2 linked regions of the Homo sapiens genome follow. The protein of the gene in region 1 purifies or fractionates together with the protein of each later gene. This does not show direct contact. Each region holds a gene or a part of one and is shown in the gene's direction. Other genes may lie near its edges. The genes, in order: ZP3 and ZP2.

What was found.
Region 2: the proteins of ZP3 (region 1) and ZP2 purify together in Homo sapiens (co-immunoprecipitation; 2 studies listed by IntAct). This does not show direct contact.

What each region holds. Positions count from the first base shown.
Region 1 is NC_000007.14:76,426,405-76,436,214, forward strand, and holds part of ZP3 (zona pellucida sperm-binding protein 3 isoform 1 precursor), read left to right. Parts: intron 1-3,110; coding exon 3,111-3,229; intron 3,230-6,522; coding exon 6,523-6,626; intron 6,627-7,065; coding exon 7,066-7,243; intron 7,244-7,633; coding exon 7,634-7,751; intron 7,752-9,810. UniProt on the Homo sapiens protein: Component of the zona pellucida, an extracellular matrix surrounding oocytes which mediates sperm binding, induction of the acrosome reaction and prevents post-fertilization polyspermy.
Region 2 is NC_000016.10:21,201,575-21,211,384, reverse strand, and holds part of ZP2 (zona pellucida sperm-binding protein 2 isoform 1 preproprotein), read left to right. Parts: coding exon 1-78; intron 79-1,192; coding exon 1,193-1,276; intron 1,277-1,659; coding exon 1,660-1,754; intron 1,755-4,394; coding exon 4,395-4,547; intron 4,548-5,609; coding exon 5,610-5,654; intron 5,655-5,800; coding exon 5,801-5,965; intron 5,966-6,980; coding exon 6,981-7,077; intron 7,078-7,173; coding exon 7,174-7,355; intron 7,356-8,133; coding exon 8,134-8,260; intron 8,261-9,093; coding exon 9,094-9,281; intron 9,282-9,361; coding exon 9,362-9,453; intron 9,454-9,554; coding exon 9,555-9,679; intron 9,680-9,810. UniProt on the Homo sapiens protein: Component of the zona pellucida, an extracellular matrix surrounding oocytes which mediates sperm binding, induction of the acrosome reaction and prevents post-fertilization polyspermy.

The sequences.
Region 1 (9,810 bases):
GCTCCTCCTCACCTGGGCCTAGACCCAGTAGCTTGCCTGGGATGGGGGCAAGTCCAGCCCCTGGAGCCCTCCGGCCAGAGCTCTGGTCTTAACTGTGGTCTCCTGGGCTCTCTTTGAGGACTCGAGGCCCTTGTTTTCCTGGGGAGGGAGGCCAGAGAGCTGCAGGAGTTACTTGAGGAATTATTCCAGTTTAGAGGCTCACAAACATGTCTTAGATTTACTTGGGGAGCCAGGTGCCTGGCTCCCCCCCCTTCTGTGAAATGGGCTTTAATAGGTTAGAAGCTGATAAGTGGTATTTTTTTGTTGTTGTTTTTGTTTTTTGAGACAGTTTTGCTCTTATTGCCCAGGCTGGAGTGCAATGGCGCCTATAATCCCAGCACTTTGGGAGGCTGAGATGGGAGGATCACTTGGGCCCGGGAGTTTAAGGCCACCCTGGGCAACATAATGAGACCCCCTTCTCTACCAAACACCACACACACACACACACACACACACACACACACAATAGGGTGTGGTGGCGCCTGCCTTTAGTCTCAGCTACTTGGGAGGCTGAAGTGGGAGGATTGCTTAAACCCATGATTTGGAGGCTGCAGTGAGCTACGATTGTGCCACTGCATTCCAGCCTGGAAGGCAGAGCAAGACCCTCTTTTATTAACCCCACCTGTGGAGCTTCTAAAAATCCTGATGTCCAGGCTGCTAAAATAGAAAGGATGTGGGACCAGCTGTGGGTAATAAGGATCTCAGGTGACTCCAATGAGGAGCAAAGCCTGCAAACTCCTTCCTCTGGTGTGGTGTTTCCCAGTTTTGCCCGGTGAGAATCACCTGCGGCTGGCCGTGCGCAGTGGCTCACGCCTGTAATCCCAGCACTTTGGGAGGCCGAGGCGGGTGAATCACGAGGTCAGGAGTTCAAGACCAGCCTGGCCACGATGGTGAAACCTCATCTCTACTAAAAATACAAAGAAGTTAGCCGGGTGTGGTGGCGGGCACCTGTAATCCCAGCTACTCAGGAGTCTGAGGCAGAGAATTGCTTGAACCCGGGAGGCGTAGGTTGCAGTGAGTTGAGATCGTGCCACTGCACTCCAGCCTGGGCAACAGAGTGAGACTCCGTCTCAAAAAAAAAAAAAAAAAAAATACAGCCATGGCCAGTTTCCCAGGTATACAACCTGTGCAGTTCTGTGGGGCCCAGTGCTTAATGGAATGCCCTCTTGCCCTGAAATGGTAATAACTTTTGAATAAGGGGCCCCACGAGCTATGCTGGTTCTGTCTGTGCTGGGGCACTTGCTAATAAGGTCTAGGACTATTCCCTGAAGATCGAGTTTGGTCAGGGCCAGGCAGCCACCTGAGCTCTTGGGCAACTTCGACCTCCTAGGCTCAAGCCATCCTCCTGCCTCAGCCTCCTGAATAGCTGGGATGGACTACAGGCACATGCCACCGTGCCCAGCCAAGTTATGTTTTTGTAGAGATGGGGTCTAGCTCTATTGCCCAGGCTGGTCGTGACTTCCTGGCCTCAAGCAATCCTCTTCCCTCCCAAAGTGCTGGGATTACAGGCATGAGCCACTGCACCCAGCCCTCAAGTAGTTTTTAAATAAGCTCCCTGAGATGAGAGGTGGGGATAGTGAGCTTAGAATAGGTGGTTGGGGGTTGAGTCATGGTGGCTCACACCTGTAATCCAGCACTTTGGGAGGCTGAGGCAGGTGGATCACCTGAGGCCAGGAGTTCGAGACCAGCCTGGCTAACATGGCGAAACCCTGTCTCTATTTAAAAAAAAAAAAAAAAGGCACGGTGGCACGTGCCTGTAATTCCAGCTACTCAGAGGCTGAAGCAGAGAATTGCTTGAACCTGGGAGGCGGAGGTTGCAGTGAGCCGAGTTCGTGCCACTGCACTCCAGCCTGGGTGACAGAGCAAGACTGCATCTCAAAAAAACAAAAGGTGGTTAGGAAGTGACTAAAGTAGGGGTTTCCAGTGCTGGCTCTATGCTAATCACCTGGAAAGGTTGTAAAAATACTGATTCTCAAGAGAATCTCATACCTTCACTCTACTGGGGTAGGGCCTAGCGTCACATTTTTCTAATATTCTAGCAAAATCTTCGAACTTAGGTGTTTGCTATAAAACTCTCTCCCAGGCAGGCCCTGCCTTCTGCAGCCCTATTGGACGATGCAAATTTCCCCAGTAGTACTCACCTGTGCTCTTCCTGCCTCAGGCAACCTCTGAATCAGTCTCCCCCACCTTATGTGAAATGGGCTTGAATAGGTTAGAAGCTGATGTGGGTTGTTGTGTTTTTTGTTTGTTTTTGTTTTTGAGAGTTTTGCTCTTGTTGCCCAGGCTAGAATGCAATGGCACGATCTCCGCTCACTGCAACCTCTGCCTCCCGGGTTCAAGCGATTCTTCTGCCTCAGTCTCCCGAGTAGCTGGGATTACAGGCACGTGCCACCACACTCAGCTAATTTTTTTTTTTTAAGTAGAGATGGGGTTTCACCATGTTGGTCAGGCTGGTCTCAAACTCCTGACCTCAGATGATCTGCCCTCCTCAGCCTCCCAAAGTGCTGGGATTACGGGCGTGAGCCACAGCGCCCAGCCAGAAGCTGATAAGTGTTAACAGCTGGGCACTTCCTGACTGCTTCCTGGCGGCTATCTTGGCCCTGGGCCTCTCCTGAAAGAGGAAACTGTATGTACTGGGGGGCATGGAGGGGGAGTGTCAGAAGGGATGTGTCATGTGCCCTGATGCCTCTATTGCTTGGGTGTTACATGGTATCTGCCATGTGGTTGATCCAGTCTGCCTGTGGTGGTGTCAATATGTGGTGTCAGGTAAAGATTCCGAGGTACAAAGACAGTACCTGTCCTGCCTCTTTCCTGACCAGTGGCAGAGCCTGTGTTCTCTTTTGTAGAGATGGGGTCTTGCTATGTTTCCCAGGCCAGTCTCAAACTCCTGGCCTCAAGCAATCCTTGGCCTCCCAAAGTGCTGGGGTTACAGGCATGAGTCACTGCACCTGGCCTTGACCCTGTGGTCTTTCTGTCCCCTTGTGGGCTGCCCTCCCTGAGCACTCAGGTATGGCTTGGGAGTACCCGGGCAGGTGATGGCCGGCAGCATTAACTTCTCACCTTTCCTCCAGGTAACTGACGATGCCCTGGTGTACAGCACCTTCCTGCTCCATGACCCCCGCCCCGTGGGAAACCTGTCCATCGTGAGGACTAACCGCGCAGAGATTCCCATCGAGTGCCGCTACCCCAGGTCGGTGTGGGACTGACTCATGGCCCCTGGTGCAAAAGCCCCTTGGGTGTGGCTGCAGGCAAGTGGGCTGGCTATGGGCTACAGCTTGCAGCATGGCTATTAGAACTACCTACCGAAGCATTTGCAGCTGTGGTTACTGTACTGCGTGGGATTGTGGGGCCTGCTGAGTCTAGTTCGAGCCCCAGAAGAGTATCAGGAGCCCAACTGCAGCTTAGCGGAAGCTTCAGAGCTGCTCAGCCCTGGTGGTGGTACTATGCCAGCCTCGGCCCTTAGGGTTCAGAAATGGCCTTCCAATAGTGCTAGGCTGGGGCCAGGTGCAGTGGCTCATCCTGTAATCCTAGCACTTTGGGAGGCTGACAGGTGGATCGCTTGAGGTCAAGGAGTTCAAGACCAGTCTGGCCTACATGGTGAAACCCCATCTCTACTAAAAACACAGAAATTAGCCGGGTGTCTATAATCCCAGCTACTTGGGAGGCTGAGGCAGGAGAATTGCTTGAACCCAGGAGGCAGAGGCTGCAGTGAGCCGAGATTGCACTGCTGTACTCCATTCTGGGCAACAAAGCGATACTCCATCGCAAAAAATAATAATAAAATAGTGCTAGGCTGCGTTCTAGAATCTGACCTGGGCGGTGGTGGCCTACTCTTCTGTGGTCCTCAAGCCCCTGGCATCAAGCACGTGCCTGTGAACTCAGGCCCTGAAGTGGGAGGAGAAACTATGGCTCCCAAGGACAACACTGGGTCCTGTGCTGGCCTCAGCATGGGGTGCAGGGGACTTTGTCCCTGCCCTTGAACCAGTCTGGGAGTGGGTATAAGATGATGCGGCCAGGTATGGTGGCTCACGCCTGTAATACCAGCCCTTTGGGAGGCCAAGGTGGGCAGCTCACGAGGTAAGGAGTTCAGGACCAGCCTGGCCAACATGGTGAAACCCATCTCTACTAAAAACACAAAAAAATTAGCCGAGTGTGGTAGCGCGTGCCTGTAATCTCAGCTACTCAGGAGGCTGAGGCAGGAGAATCATTTGAACCCAGGATGCAGAGGTTGCAGTGAGCTGAGATGGCACCATTGCACTCCAGCCTGGGCAACAGAGCAAGACTCCATCTCAAAAAGAAAATGCTAGTGTGAAGTGGGTAGGGAGCTGATACCAGTCAGGACATCATGAGGGATGAGCCATGCCCCTGGGAGGGGTCATGGTAGGGGTTATCCTAGAACAGGATCCTGGAGTGGGGGACCTTGAGGCTGAGATGGCCTGGGCAGAGCCATGTGGCCACACACCCAACGGGAGGGTAGTGTGCCCTTAGTAGGTGACATGCAGCCTGGGGGCTGGAGCCCAGGGACTGGGGTAATGAGGGAGCCAGACAGATGGGCTCACCAGCCTCACCACAGGTGCCCCTCCTGGAATGGGTGAGGACTGAATCTCCACCCAGGGTCACCTGGTGGCTGGTGCTGAAGACAAATGGGAACTAGTGAGAACCAGCTGGGAGGCTGGAAAACTGGGATTCAATGAGGCCTGACCCATGGTTGCAGGGACCGTAGAGGCTGACTCGCAGGAGCTAAGAGCAGTTGGAGGAGCTTGGTGCCTATGTGGGTAGGGGAGATGGAGGAGGATAGAGGAGTCAAGGGCAGGCTGCCCAGTCGGCATGAGGGACTGAAGCTGTCCTGTGACCGTGGAAGTCTGACTTCAGTCTCTGGGCCTGACCCCTGAGGATGGTGGCTCACCTGGTCCATTGGCTGTAGGTAGTATTAGAGAGGCTGGTTGTAGGCTGGGATGCTTTAACCTGGCTCCAGATACCTGAGTCTGGTTATCAATAGATGCATCCATCACTTGGAGTAGCTTCTTCCAGCAGATCCTATGGGGTTAGCAGGGTAGGTATCTGCAGATACCCAGACCTGCTTCCATGGACTTCCCAGTCACTGGTGTGGGTCCAGGCTCTCGGTAGCATCTCAAGACCTAAGGGCCTGTCTTTGATCTCTAAAGGATGGCCTTGGCTGGGCATGGTGGCTCACGCCTATAATCCCAGCACTTTGGGAGGCCGAGGCGGGCGGATCATGAGGTCAGGAGATGGAGACCATCCTGGCTAACGTGGTGAAACCCCGTCTCTACTAAAAATACAAAAAATTAGCCAGGCCTAGTGGCGGGTGCCTGTAGTCCCAGCTATTTGGGAGGCTGAGGCAGGAGAATGGCGTGAACCTGGGTGGTGGAGCTTGCAGTGAGCCGAGATCGTGCCACTGTACTCCAGCCTGGGAGACAAAGTGAGACTCCGTCTCAAAAAAAAAAAAAAAAGATGGCCTTAGCTGATTCCCCTCTCAAGCATCCTGTGGAGTACTGTGCAGGGCCTGCTATCAGACCCCAAACCTGAACCTCTAGGGCTAAAGTATGTGTGGTGGCTTTTGGTTTTTTGTTTAAAAAAAAAAAGTCTTACTCTGCCGCCCAGGCTGGAGTGCAGTGGGGTGCCATCATAGTTCACTGCAGCCTTGACCTCCTGGGCTCAAGCAATCCTCCCATCTCAGCCTCCTGAGTAGCTGGTATGTACTACTATGCCCAGCTATCTTTTCTTTTCTTTTCTTTTTTTTTTGAGATGGAGTCTTGCTCTGTTGCCCAGGCTGGAGTGCAGTGGTGTGATCTCAGCTCACTGCAAACTCCACCTCCGAGGTTCACGCCATTCTCCTGCCTCAGCCTCCCAAGTAGCTGGGACTAAAGGCGCCCGCCACCATGCCCGGATAATTTTATTTTTAGTGGAGATGGGGTTTCACCATGTTAGCCAGGATGGTCTCGATCTCCTGACCTCATGATCCGCCCGCCTCGGCCTCTCAAACTGCTGGGATTATAGGCTTGAGCCACCGTGCCTGGCCTCTTTTCTTTTTTATAGAGATAGAGTCTTGCTATGTTGTCCAGGCTGCTCTCAAACTCCTAGCCTCAGGCAATCCTCCAGTCTCCACCTCCCAAAGTGCTGGGATTACAGGCATGAGCCACCGCACTCAGGTCCAGGGCTCAAGAGGGAGCAGATCTCAGTCTAGAAACCAAACTCCTAGGTTCAGCTGTATCTGTCTTCAGCGGCCCAGATAGCATCATAGCATCAGTTAGGATGGCTAGGCCACTCACAGGTGCAGAAGTTCAGGAGGGTGCAGGGGCAGCCTCAGGCTCAAGGTGTCTGTTCAGCCATCTCGCACCAGCTACCTGGCTGGGCCATAGCTGAGGACCCTGTAGTGGGGTAGCAGTGAGATACTCCCCATCAGTGGGGGCCCAGGTGGGTGTGACCTGAGGCAGGTGTGCACAGCTGCTGTTCTTCTCTCAGGCAGGGCAATGTGAGCAGCCAGGCCATCCTGCCCACCTGGTTGCCCTTCAGGACCACGGTGTTCTCAGAGGAGAAGCTGACTTTCTCTCTGCGTCTGATGGAGGGTAAGAGAAGAAGGCTGGGTGGGACATCTGTGGAAAGACCTGGGCCATCTCAGACCCCTGCCCTTGGCTGTGTCTTTTTTTTGTTTGTTTGGTTTTGGTTTTGGTTGGTTTTGGTTGGTTTTGGTTGGTTTTGGTTGGTTTTTGAGACAGTCTTGATCTGACCTCCAGGCTGGAGTGCAGTGGCACGATCTCAGCTCACTGCAGTCTCCACCTCCTGGGGTTCAAACGATTCTCCTGCCTCAGCCTCCCGAGTAACTGGGACTACAGGCTTCTGACACCACACCCAGCTAACTTTTCTATTTTTAGTAGAGATGGGGTTTTGCCACGTTGGCTAGGCTGGTCTCGAACTCCTGACCTCAGGTGATCCACCTGCCTCAGCCTCCCAAGGTGCTGGGATTACAGGCATGAGCCACCATGCCCAGCTGACTGTGTCTTTCAGAGAACTGGAACGCTGAGAAGAGGTCCCCCACCTTCCACCTGGGAGATGCAGCCCACCTCCAGGCAGAAATCCACACTGGCAGCCACGTGCCACTGCGGTTGTTTGTGGACCACTGCGTGGCCACACCGACACCAGACCAGAATGCCTCCCCTTATCACACCATCGTGGACTTCCATGGGTGAGCACTGGGCTCCCTGCCTAGAGAACCTTCCTAGCAAAATGACCCTAAAGCCACCTGTTTGGCTTTTTGAGACAGTGTCACTCTGTAACCCAGGCTGGAATACAGAGGCTTGATCTCTGCCCTCTGCAACCTCTGCCTCCCAGGTTTAAGTGATTCTCCTGCCTCAGCCCCCCAAGTAGCTGAGATTACAGGTGCCCATCACCATGCCTGGCTAATTTTTGTATTTTTAGTAGAGACAAGGTTTCACCATGTTTGCCAGGCTAGTCTCGAACTCCTGACCTCAAGTGATCCACCCACCTTGGCCTCCCAAAGTGCTGGGATTATGGGCGTGAGCCACGGTGCCCGGCCCACCTGTCTGGCTTTAATACCGTTCTGTTTTCTTCCAAGCTGTCTTGTCGACGGTCTCACTGATGCCTCTTCTGCATTCAAAGTTCCTCGACCCGGGCCAGATACACTCCAGTTCACAGTGGATGTCTTCCACTTTGCTAATGACTCCAGAAACATGGTAAGAGCTTTAACAGCCTGAAAGAAGGCTGAACTTGCAACCTTCATATCCTACTGAATGGGGTCACTCACTAGCTCCACCCCTAAGCAAATGACTTAGAGCTGTGTCCCAGTAACTCAAACTTACAAGTAAAGCCATGAGCTTTAGCGAGGCCTTCAAGCAGAAGGATGAACAATATGAAGCCTTAAGAGGTAGAGGCCGGGCACGGTGGCTCATGCTTGTAATCCCAATACTTTGGGAGGCCGAGGGGGGTGGATCACTTGAGGTCAGGAGTTCAAGACCAGCCTGGCCAACATAGTAAAACCCCGACTCTACTAAATATACAAAAAAAATTAGCTGAGTGTGGTGGTTGGGTACCTGTAATCCCAGCTACCTGGGAGGCTGAAGCAGGAGAATAGCTTGAACCTGGGAGGCAGAGGTTGCAGTGAGCAGAGATTGTGCCACTGCACCTCCAGCCTGAGTGACAGTGAGACTCCATCTCCAAAAAAAAAAAAAAAGGCAGGTGTTAGCCTTCCTGGAGGCTTTCTGCAGGGGCAAAGAAAACCAGTGTGAACTTCGTAGCCAGGGTGGCTTCTTGAACTTGGTCATAGGTTAGGCTAGTGATTCTGAAGGCATCATCCTCAGCTGGAGGGCTTGTTGAAATTGATGACTGGGCCCCAACCCAGGGTTTGATTCAGGTGGTCTAGTGAAGCCTAGAATCTGCATTCTTAAGTGTTGGTTCTGCCAGTCTGGGTCCTCCCCTTGAGAACCTAAACTAGAAAACTCAAATTGACACTAAGAGGGAAGGAGAAGGAAGGAATGAAGATGGGAACTGCCTAATGGCTGAGGTGGGGGAGGGATGCAGTAGGAAGTGCAGGTGCAAGGACCAACATCTAGCCGGGAAGTACTGGTAAGTGGTTAGAAGTAAATTGCCTGGTGCGGTGGCTCGTGCCCATAATCCCAGCACTTTGGGAGGCTGAGGCGGGCAGATCACGAGGTCAGGAGATTGAGACCATCCTGGTTAACACGGTGAAACCCCCTCTACTAAAAATACAAAAAATTAGCTGGGCATGATGGTGGGCACCTGTAGTCCCAGCCACTCCAGGTTCCCAGGTGCAAGTGATTCTCCTGCCTCAGTCTCCCAAGTAGCTGGGAGTACAGGTACCCGCCACCATGCCTGGCTAATTTTTTTGTATTTCTAGTAGAGACAAGGTTTTACCATGTTGTCCAGGCTGGTCCCAAACTCCTGACCTCAGGTGATCCGCCTGCCTCGGTCTCCCAAAGTGCTGGAATTACAGGCGTGAGCCACCATGCCCAGCCTCAAGTAGCTTTTAAACAAGCTCACTGAGATGAGAGGTGAGGCGGTGAGCTTAGAATAGGTGGTTAGGAAGTGATTAAAGTAGGGGTTTCCAGTGCTGGCTCTATACTAATCATCTGGAGAGGTTGTAAAAATACTGATTGTAGAGAGTCTCATACCTTCACTCTATTGGGGTAGGGCATGGTGTCACATTTTGTAACATTAACTAAATCTTCATAGGTGTTTGCTGTAAAACTCCATGAACTTCAGTGTGCACACCATCTAGGTTCTACCACCAGCATTTTTTTTTTTTTTTTGAGACAGTCTCACTCTGTCACCCAAGCTGGAATGCAATGGTGCGGTCTTGGCTCACTGCAACCTCTGCCTCCGGGTGCAAGCAATTCTGCCTCAGCCTCCTGAGTAGCTGGGATTGTAGGCGCCTGCCACCATGCCCGGCTAATCCTTGTATTTCTTAGTAGAGACAGGGATTCATCATTTTGGCCAGGCTGGTCTTGAACTCTTGACCTCATTATCCAACCGCCTCAGCTTCCCAAAGTGCTGGGATTATAGGCATGAACCACCACGCGCCCCCCGCCCCCTTTTTTTTTTTTTTTTTTTTTTTTTTTTTTTTTTTTTTTTTTTTTGAGAGGGTCTCTGTCACCCAGGCTGGAGTACAGTGGCCCAATCTTAGGTCACTGCAACTTCCACCTCCCAGGCTCAAGCGATTCTCCTGCCTTAGCCTCCCAAGTAGCTGAGATTGTAGGCATACGCCACTACTGAGTG
Region 2 (9,810 bases), on another chromosome or scaffold:
CGATTTCTCTCTTCTTCGCCCTTGTGACTTCAGGGAACTCCATAGATGTTTCTCAGTTGGTAAATCCTGCCTTTCCAGGTATGTCTCTTGGGTGACAGAAGTCTTCTTAGCAGAGAAAACAGGTTGCAGCTGGAAGGCCTAGCTGGCCAAGAAACACAGGCCTGGCTCAGACAACCTCCATTCACCCCCTTTATTACCTTGGTCAGGTTACTGGATCTTTCTTCTGCTAACCTGTAGACTCACTATACCTGCTAAATGAAAACTCAAACACTTGCACTGCCTTCCAATCCCTCACTGCCTCAAGCTTTATGGTATCCACAGAACAGCAAACCACCACACTAAGCCCTCATCTTTAGGAGCAGCAATCTTCAAACACAAACTCATGCTTAAGGAAAACATCGACATAACAAGCAAAACTGGAGCTGCTCACTTGACGTTCACCTGAGCCAGAGGCTGCAGAGTAGCAGATGATGGGCAAAACTTGATCTTTAAAAAAAAAAAAAAAAATGCAGCCAGGCGCCGGGGCTCACGCCTGTAATCCCAGAACTTTGGGAAGCCAAGGCGGGCAGATCACCTGAGCTCAGGAGTTTGAGACCAGCCTGGCCAATGTGGTGAAACCCCATCTCTACCAAAAATACAAAAACTAGCTGGGTGTGGTGGTGGGCACATGTAATCCCAGCTACTTGGGAGGCTGAGGCAGGAGAATCGCTTGAACCTGGGAGGCGGAGGTTGAGGTGGGTTGAGATCGTGCCACTGCACTCCAGCCTGGGTGACAGAGAGACTCCGTCTCAAAATAAATAAATAAATAAATAAAAGTCCTGGGACTTACCCAGGACTTTGTTTAACATCAATTTGCAAAACCTGTTGACAAAGCTTTTGTCAGTTTTTCGGGCCTGCCTCCATCTGCTCCACTGTCAAGGTGTTGACCTGGCTCCTACAGACCTGCTTGTCAACCCTAACCTGGGCTTCTTACTGGAACACTTCAAAAGCCCTGGGTACCTGATATTTTCCTTACAGTTCTTGGCATATTGTATTGTTGTCTTGGTCACTTGTTTGTGAGCTCTCCCAGGGTAGGGGACGATTCTTGCCTCCCTCATCTGGAATCCCTCCCATCTGAGAGGAGTCTATACACTTTTGTAGGAGTTGCATCACTCATGACTCAAAGCCCCCAAATGCTTCCTTTGCTCCTTAGGCACTGTCACTTGCGATGAAAGGGAAATAACAGTGGAGTTCCCAAGCAGTCCTGGCACCAAGAAATGGCATGCATCTGTGGTGGGTAGGTAACGTGTGTTATCTCCTCATAGTCCTGATTAGCAGACAGCCTTTGGCTTAGGTCAATCCTGTTTGGGGAGCAGAGTACCCAAACTCCTGCAGCAACGGCATCCAACTCCCATGATGCCATGGGGATACCTGATTTGCATGAAGCCACCCAGCATGGAAGACCTGTCTGTCTTCGAAAGTGTGTCTTATGCCAGCATCTCTGGGAAGCCTCTGGCTGCAAGTCATACCATCTCAAAGCTCAAGTTCTATCACTGAGTTGGGGCGGAAGTGAAGGGACTGAAGTACCTTAGAAATGGACTGGTGGTCTTGACTCTATAGCTTTGGACTGTCACTGAAATGTACTCAGCCATCCTGTCTAACCTGCTCTGGCCTTGGCAGATCCTCTTGGTCTCGACATGCCGAACTGCACTTACATCCTGGACCCAGAAAAGCTCACCCTGAGGGCTACCTATGATAACTGTACCAGGAGAGTGGTAAGTCATTGCTTTGAGCAGTTCTTGGGGAAGTACGTAGTAACCTAAGAGTTACTGGCAGTAAACTTGGCTAAGAACTTTCTCTTTGGAGTAAAGCAGTGGCTCTCAACCAAGGGGGTGGTGTCTCGTGTGTGGCTCTTCTTTTCTATTATAATCTGTCTAGGCCAGGTGTGATGGCTCACGCCTATAATCTCTGCACTTTAGGAGGCTGAGACGGGTGGATCACCTGAGGTCAGAAGTTTGAGACCAGCCTGGCCAACATGGTGAAACCCCATCCCTACTAAAAATACAAAAAACTAGCTGGGTGTGGTAGCACACACCTGTAATCCCAGCTACTTGTGAGGCTGAGGCAGGAGAATCGCTTAAACCCAGGGGACAGAGGTTTGCAGTGAGCTGAGATTGCTCCATTGCCCTCCAGCCTGGGCAACAAGAGCAAAACTGTCTGGAGGAGGGTGGGGGGAATCTGTCCAGGGGACATTTGACAACATCTAGAAACATCTTTGGTTATCACAACTGAAGGTAGAAGAGCTACTACTGGCATCTAATGGATACAAGCCAAAGATGCTGGCAGACAACCAACATTACCCAAGTCTCCTCCCCATAACACAGAATTACCAGGACTGAGATGTCAGTGTTGAGGATGAGAAACCCTGGCATTCAAGTACTTGAGCCCTTGAGCCCTGGCTCTACCACTAATCAGGTGTAATTTCCACCAAGTGAGCCCTTTCAAGCCTGTTTGCCCATTAGAAGATGAGAGTAATGGTGCCTGCTCCATGGGGGTAATGAAGACTAATGATGTTCTACAGATTAAGACCTGGTGCAGAACCTGGATACAACAAGTGATGAAACACGAGCTATTTTGATCTGTGAACCCCAACATGAGATGGAAGGCTATTTTGGTGCTAGCAAATAGAAATCTGACCTATAGAAACAGGTGTTAAAAGGCAAACAGCAGCTAAGCAGTAAGGGTTTTTCTATTGCCAAGCAACAGTATTGCCCAATCAGGAATATTAGGAGCAATAAAAGCAACCTGTCTAAGCAGAAGCTAGCAAGTTGTAATTTGGAAAGTTTGGGTTTGACTAGTTGGACATAGGCCTGGGGTGAGTTCTGGGAATCTGCATATCTAACAGTCTATACCATCTGATTACGATGCAGGTGGTCAGCAGTCTAAGCTTTGTACAGATACAGTCTTAGACCCTACTCTGTAAACAGGCTTGAACTGTAAGTCATCTGGTCCCCTAAAGCCCTCTGTGATCAATCAATGAAGTAATCATAGGTCCTTCATGAAAAACCTGATAATTTCCTTCTAAAACAGACCTTCTCAACATTAGAGGTCTTGGAGTCGCATTCCCTTAGACTAAGGGTCTGCAAGCCATAACCTGTGGATGGCCAAACGCAGTCCATGGTCTCTTTCTGAGGCAGGCTTGCTCTGTAGCCCAGGCTGGAAAGTAGTGGCTGCAATCATGGCTCACTGCAGCCTAGAACTGCTGGGCTCAAGGGATTCTCCCGTCTCAGCCTCCCAACTAGTTGGGGCTACAGGCATGCAACACTATGCCTGTCTAATCTTTGTCTTGTCAAAATGGGGATTTCACCATGTTGTCCAGGCTGGCCTCAAACTTCTGGCCTCAAGGGATCCTCCCACCTCAGCCTTCCAAAGCACTGGGATTATAGGCATGAACCACTGTGCCTAGTTCATGGGTTTTTTTTGTGTTTTTGTTTGTTTTTGTTTTGGTTTGGTTTTCAAACTAAGAATGGGTTTTATCTTCTTAATCTTCTTGAGACAGGGTCTTGCTGTTGTCCAGGCTGGCATGCAGTGGCATAATCTCGGCTCACTGCAACCTCTACCTCCCGGACTCAAGCAATCCCCTACCCTATGTCTCAGTACCACCTCAGCCTGCCCAGTAGCTGAGACCACAGGCATATACCACCACACCCAGCTAACTTTTGTGGTGTGTGTGTGTGTGTGTGTGTGTGTGTGTGTGTGTGTGTGTGTGTTTAATATATATATAGAGATGGAGTCTCTCACCATGTTGCACAGGCTGGTCTTGAACTCCTGAGCTCAAGCAGTCAGTCTGCCTCAGCCTCCCAAAGTGCTGGAGTTACAGGCAATGAGCCACCATGCCCAGCTGGCTTTTATCTTTTTAAAGTTCTTTTAAGGAAATATGCTATGGATTTCATGTGGCTCACATGAGTCTAAAACAGTTGCTAATGCATAATGGAAAAAGGTTGGCTGACCCCTGCTTTTAGACTGAGTTTCCTAAGGTCAGGGGTAATAGCAAGGGTAGCTCTACCCAGCACAATGGCAGCTACTTAGGTGCTTAACAAGTATTCAGATAACCTGGGTAGAAGCCCCATACCAACCCCATTCAGCCAGGACCATGGTACTGAGACATAGGGTACACATAAGAGAAATAGAAACTGAACTCCATTTCCTGATGCTAAAACTGGCCTATCAGCATGAGTCTTCACTAACAGATTACAATGGGCTAGCTAGTCTCCTGGTACGGGAATGAGGTACCTTCCAGCACTTGTGGTATTAGTAACTTTAAGGGTTTTCCCACTCAGATGGGTCAGATGGTATTCTAGAATCCCATGGGGGTACAGTACTTACTCTGTTCCCACTGTGCTATCTGTACACAGCATGGTGGACACCAGATGACCATCAGAGTCATGAACAACAGTGCTGCCTTAAGACACGGAGCTGTCATGTATCAGTTCTTCTGTCCAGCTATGCAAGTAGAAGAGACCCAGGGGCTTTCAGCATCTACAATCTGCCAGAAGGATTTCATGTCTGTGAGTGAAACGGGCTGACTGCTCGGGGTATATGGCTACTGCAGGGGGAATATGATGATGATCTAACCAGGGCGGGGCTTAGAAATCAGACCATGATTTAATCCTGTACTTGCTAATTTTCTGTGTGATGAGGTTTAACTTTACCCTGAGGCTTTGTTTCCAAGTCCAAAGTGATGGGACAATAATGCTTACCTCAGGGTGGCTCTAAGAATTTACTGAGGGTATATACATGGTACTTGGCACATCATGCATGGCAATAGGGTTTTATTGGTAGTTGCACTCACACTAATCATCTGACAAATGGAATACATGCCATGTTCCAGGCCCTACCCTAGATGCTAAGATACAATAAGTGAACAAAACGACCCAGTCACATCTTCATGGGTTTAGAGTCTAACATGGCTAATGTCAACAATGGACAACTAAAAATAACACTGACATAAAAGCAACTCAATAACAATGATAGAACTGCATGGCTTTTACATAGTACCTGATTTCTATGGACATTGGTGAAAGGGCAAACGTTTAAGAACATTGTCCTGGTCAGGCATGGTGGCTCATGCCTGTAATCCCAGCAATTTGGGAGGCTGAGGTAGGTGGATCACCTGAGGTCAGGAGTTTGAGACCAGCCTGACCAACATGGTGAAAACCCATCTCTACTAAATACAAAAAACTAGCCGGGTATGGTAGTACATTCCTGTAATCCCAGCTACTTGGGAGGCTGGGGCAGGAGAATCGCTTGAACCCAGGAGACGGAGGTTGCAGGGAGCCGAGATTGCACCATTGCACTCCAGCCTGGGCGATGAGCGAAACTCTATCTTGGGGGGAGAAATGTGTCCCAACTTACAACTGGAAAGGAGCTTAGATCTTCCAGCTGCCTCTTGGGATCAGAAGTTCAAAGAAGTATAATGACATCTAAGGGCACAGTCAGGGTTCATGTGCTTCTTCCACTGCATCCCACAGCAGGCCTTTTGGTATGACAACCACACAGCAATTTCTGGCATGAATTCGGAAACATCTACCTCCAAATCAAAGTCTTACATCACAATTCTTTTCTTCCAGTTTTCCTTGCCACGGGTCTTCTCTGGCTTGGCTGACGACAGTAAGGTATGAAGCAAATTTTAAAAATCAGACCTTAATAACCTTTAATTCTATGTTAAAGGTGATATTACCTTTAACCTGATAAATTGTTAGACTACCAGAGACTTGGTTAAGGGAGCACCAGCCCTCTAAACAAAGCTTTTTGACTTCAGGGGACCAAAGTTCAGATGGGATGGAGCATTGAGGTTGGTGATGGTGCAAGAGCCAAAACTCTGACCCTGCCAGAGGCCATGAAGGAAGGCTTCAGCCTCTTGATTGACAACCACAGGATGACCTTCCATGTGCCATTCAATGCCACTGGAGTGACTCACTATGTGGTAGGTGTGGAAGTCTGGCTTTGTACCACCAAAGCACAGGCCAGTATTCCTAAATTGAAGCATGATCTCAACCATGTCTTCACATTAATTTATAATACAACCCATTTTAATGCCTATTAAGTGCCAAACACTTCGCTGGGTATTCACACCTGTAATCCCAGCACTTTGGAAGGCTGAAGCGGGCAGATCGCTTGAGGTCAGGAGTTCAAGACCAGCCCGGCCAACCCTGTCTGTTTAGTGAAACCCTGTCTCTACTAAAAACACAAAAACTTAACTGGGTGAGATGGTACATGCCTATAATCCCAACTACTCAGGAGGCTGAGGTGGGAGAATCGCTTGAACCCAGGAGGTAGAAGTTGCAGTGAGCCGAGATTGTACCACTGCACTCCAGCCTGGGCGACAGAGCGAGACCATTTCTCAAAAATACATAATCCTTACCTCAATCTAGTCTCTTTCCCATAGTCTTAAATCTATAGTACAACACAGAACAAGCATATTCCTGAAAGCTTTATGGGTTAAGGGGTTCTGTTTGGGTTGTCATTGTCCTATATTGTTTTATAGCAAGTATTGGTGCTTTCCAGGCCAATAGTCTGAACACTGCACTAAATGAATTAATCTCCTAAAGTACTTAGGACAGGTCCTGAGATGTAAGTGCTCAAATGCCAACCACTTCAAGAACAGTCCTATCTCCCAGTAAGAACACAAATGGATTGAGGCTTGAAAACATTGTCTGGCTGCTGATACTTTAAAATAGTCATATGGGGTAAGGACAGATCTTATCTGCCTAGAAGTCATTGGCTACAGGTGATCTAGACAACATTCTTCCAGATGTTAGAACAAGGTTAAAACTAATATACCTCCAGATTAGACAAATTAGTCATTAGACAAATGCTTAAATCCTACTTGTGTCAAAGTAGTGCCCATTACTTGGATATATACTTGCCAAGATGATTCTTACTGGTTAGAGATTCAAGTAACCAATGTTTTTGAAGATCACTGTTATTTCTCCCCCTAGCAAGGTAACAGTCATCTCTACATGGTGTCTCTGAAGCTTACATTTATATCTCCTGGACAGAAGGTGATCTTCTCTTCACAAGCTATTTGTGCACCAGGTAAGGTCCCAGATAGCTGCAACCTCAGTGTGGGAGACATTGTCCTAGAAGCTTAATCAAGGCTGGTAATGGGCATTCTGTTGTCATTCCTTCTAGATCCTGTGACCTGCAATGCCACACACATGACTCTCACCATACCAGAGTTTCCTGGGAAGCTTAAGTCTGTGAGCTTTGAAAACCAGAACATTGATGTGAGCCAGCTGCATGACAATGGAATTGATCTAGAAGCAACAAATGGCATGAAATTGCATTTCAGCAAAACTCTGCTCAAAACGAAAGTATGTTCAATTGTCAACCACTGAACTCCACCGGGTCCTGACTTGAAGTATACTCTTGTGGGTAGTCCTCATACGGCTGATAACTTGCCCGTGAGCTCTAATTGCCAACATAACAGATTCAAACTCCAAAAGGCCTCATTTGATCATCTTGTATAAGTGAAATATCAAGTAACTAAAGTTCATTCTCTAACACAAAACCTCTTTAACTTCTGTCATGAAAAATCGTCTAAGTCTTTCTAAGTCTTAAAACTGTCTAAGGCCCCAACTGAGTAGTAGCAACTACTTGTCAAATACCTAATGATGAATCTGTCCTGGTCAACGAACAGGACACCTTGATCTAAACAAAAGGGTCCCGTACTGTTGCTGTTGAGGTTAGTCTTCACTAGAACTGCCAGGGATACCAGAGAATAATCTTAGGTTGGGGGTACATATTATGCAATACCATTTTATAACATCTGTAGAGTCCTTTTGACTCAGACCTGGCTTGGCAGAGGATTCCACTATTCTTTGGAATTTGATCTGCTAATTCAAGCTTTAGTGCCTCGTACAAAGAGTACAGTGCTGGGTACTCCAGGGCATGAGTTTAAAGCAATAAATCTGCCTGGGGATACATCCAGATCTGAGGAAGTGATAGGGTCTCTCTTGTTTTGGTTTAAAGGGAGCCCAGATAAGTCTGGAGTGTGTCCTGCAAGTATTTAGTGGACTTGCTTCCTGCCTCCCTGTGACGGTTCCGGGCCCCAACGGACTGTGGCTGCTAATTGACATTTTCTCATTTCAGTTATCTGAAAAATGCCTACTCCATCAGTTCTACTTAGCTTCACTCAAGCTGACCTTTCTCCTTCGGCCAGAGACAGTATCCATGGTGATCTATCCTGAGTGTCTCTGTGAGTCACCCGTTTCTATAGGTAAAGACCTTTTATTAAAATCATGTTCTACCTTTTTTCTCCCTTGGCTCTTGTACATGTGGGCAAATGTATAGAAGGTCAGATTCTGATCTATTGCTTATAGACTGAAGAAACTAAAGACTAGTCAGATTAGAAACAGTGTAGCTGCTACGATGGGGTCCTAAGTATGATATTTTTAAGATCCCTACATAGGTAGGTTTTATGGCAACTGCTCCATGGTTAAACAATCTAGATATTTTGGCTTAGGAGCCTGAACCTGACATCTAGGTAAGAATATTCAAACTTCTAATTAGAATTAAGTTTAAGTACCCCCCCACCCCAAAATTCCTACAAATTCTTAAATAGAGTGAATATCTCTTGTTTAGCATTGCCTCCACCATGTGCTTCTGTTTAATGTGATCTGCACAGGTCAGATCAAATAGGAAAACCAGCTCCTGCCTCAGTTTCTCCCCAAACTACTCAGGATTTGTGAGTATACAAAGAAAGGATACAATAACATAGGCGCTGTACTTAAAGCCACATTAAGTTTAACCTTGAGTCAACTCCTGCCCTTCATCAGGATTCTCACTGGTCTTATACCATATAGCACTTCTTCCTACATCTACTGGTCCCTCCTTTGGATGAAAAGTCCTACTCTCACATAGAACAATCAACTAACTTCAGCTCCCTTTGTAATTCAAGCTGCTGATCAAGGTTCCCTCATAAAGACTTCAAGACAGATTCTGATGCCTCCTGCTAAATTAGAATTTCTCCCTCGTAGCATATCAGGTTGGGAGATGACAGTATCACAGGGCAGACAAACTTATTTTCTCTAAACTTTCACCGCTGTCTAGTTACAGGGGAGCTGTGCACCCAGGATGGGTTTATGGACGTCGAGGTCTACAGCTACCAAACACAACCAGCTCTTGACCTGGGTACTCTGAGGGTGGGAAACTCATCCTGCCAGCCTGTCTTTGAGGCTCAGTCTCAGGGGCTGGTACGGTTCCACATACCCCTGAATGGATGTGGAACGAGATATAAGGTTAGTACTGGCAGATGGCACGAGGTTAAGTCTCATCTTTGACATAACTGGCTGCTAACCCACTTTCTCTGACATTTAAGTTCGAAGATGATAAAGTCGTCTATGAAAACGAAATACATGCTCTCTGGACGGATTTTCCTCCAAGCAAAATATCTAGAGACAGTGAGTTCAGGTGAGATAAAATTGCTATTTGACTCTTAAGCTCTAGTTTAAACTCAAGCAATTTTTTAACCTGAAATTTTCTGTACCTACCTTCCCTCCAAACTCTTACAGAATGACAGTGAAGTGTTCTTATAGCAGGAATGACATGCTACTAAACATCAACGTTGAAAGCCTTACTCCTCCAGTGGCCTCAGTGAAGTTGGGTCCATTTACCTTGATCCTGCAAAGCTACCCAGGTAAGAGATTGCAGTCTGTGAAATTGCTTAAATGATCTCAAACTTCTCCCTAAAATGAACATCCTGATACTGCCAGACTAATGGAGCAGTGATGACCTATGAATCTGTGTTGCAGCCATTAACTACTTGAA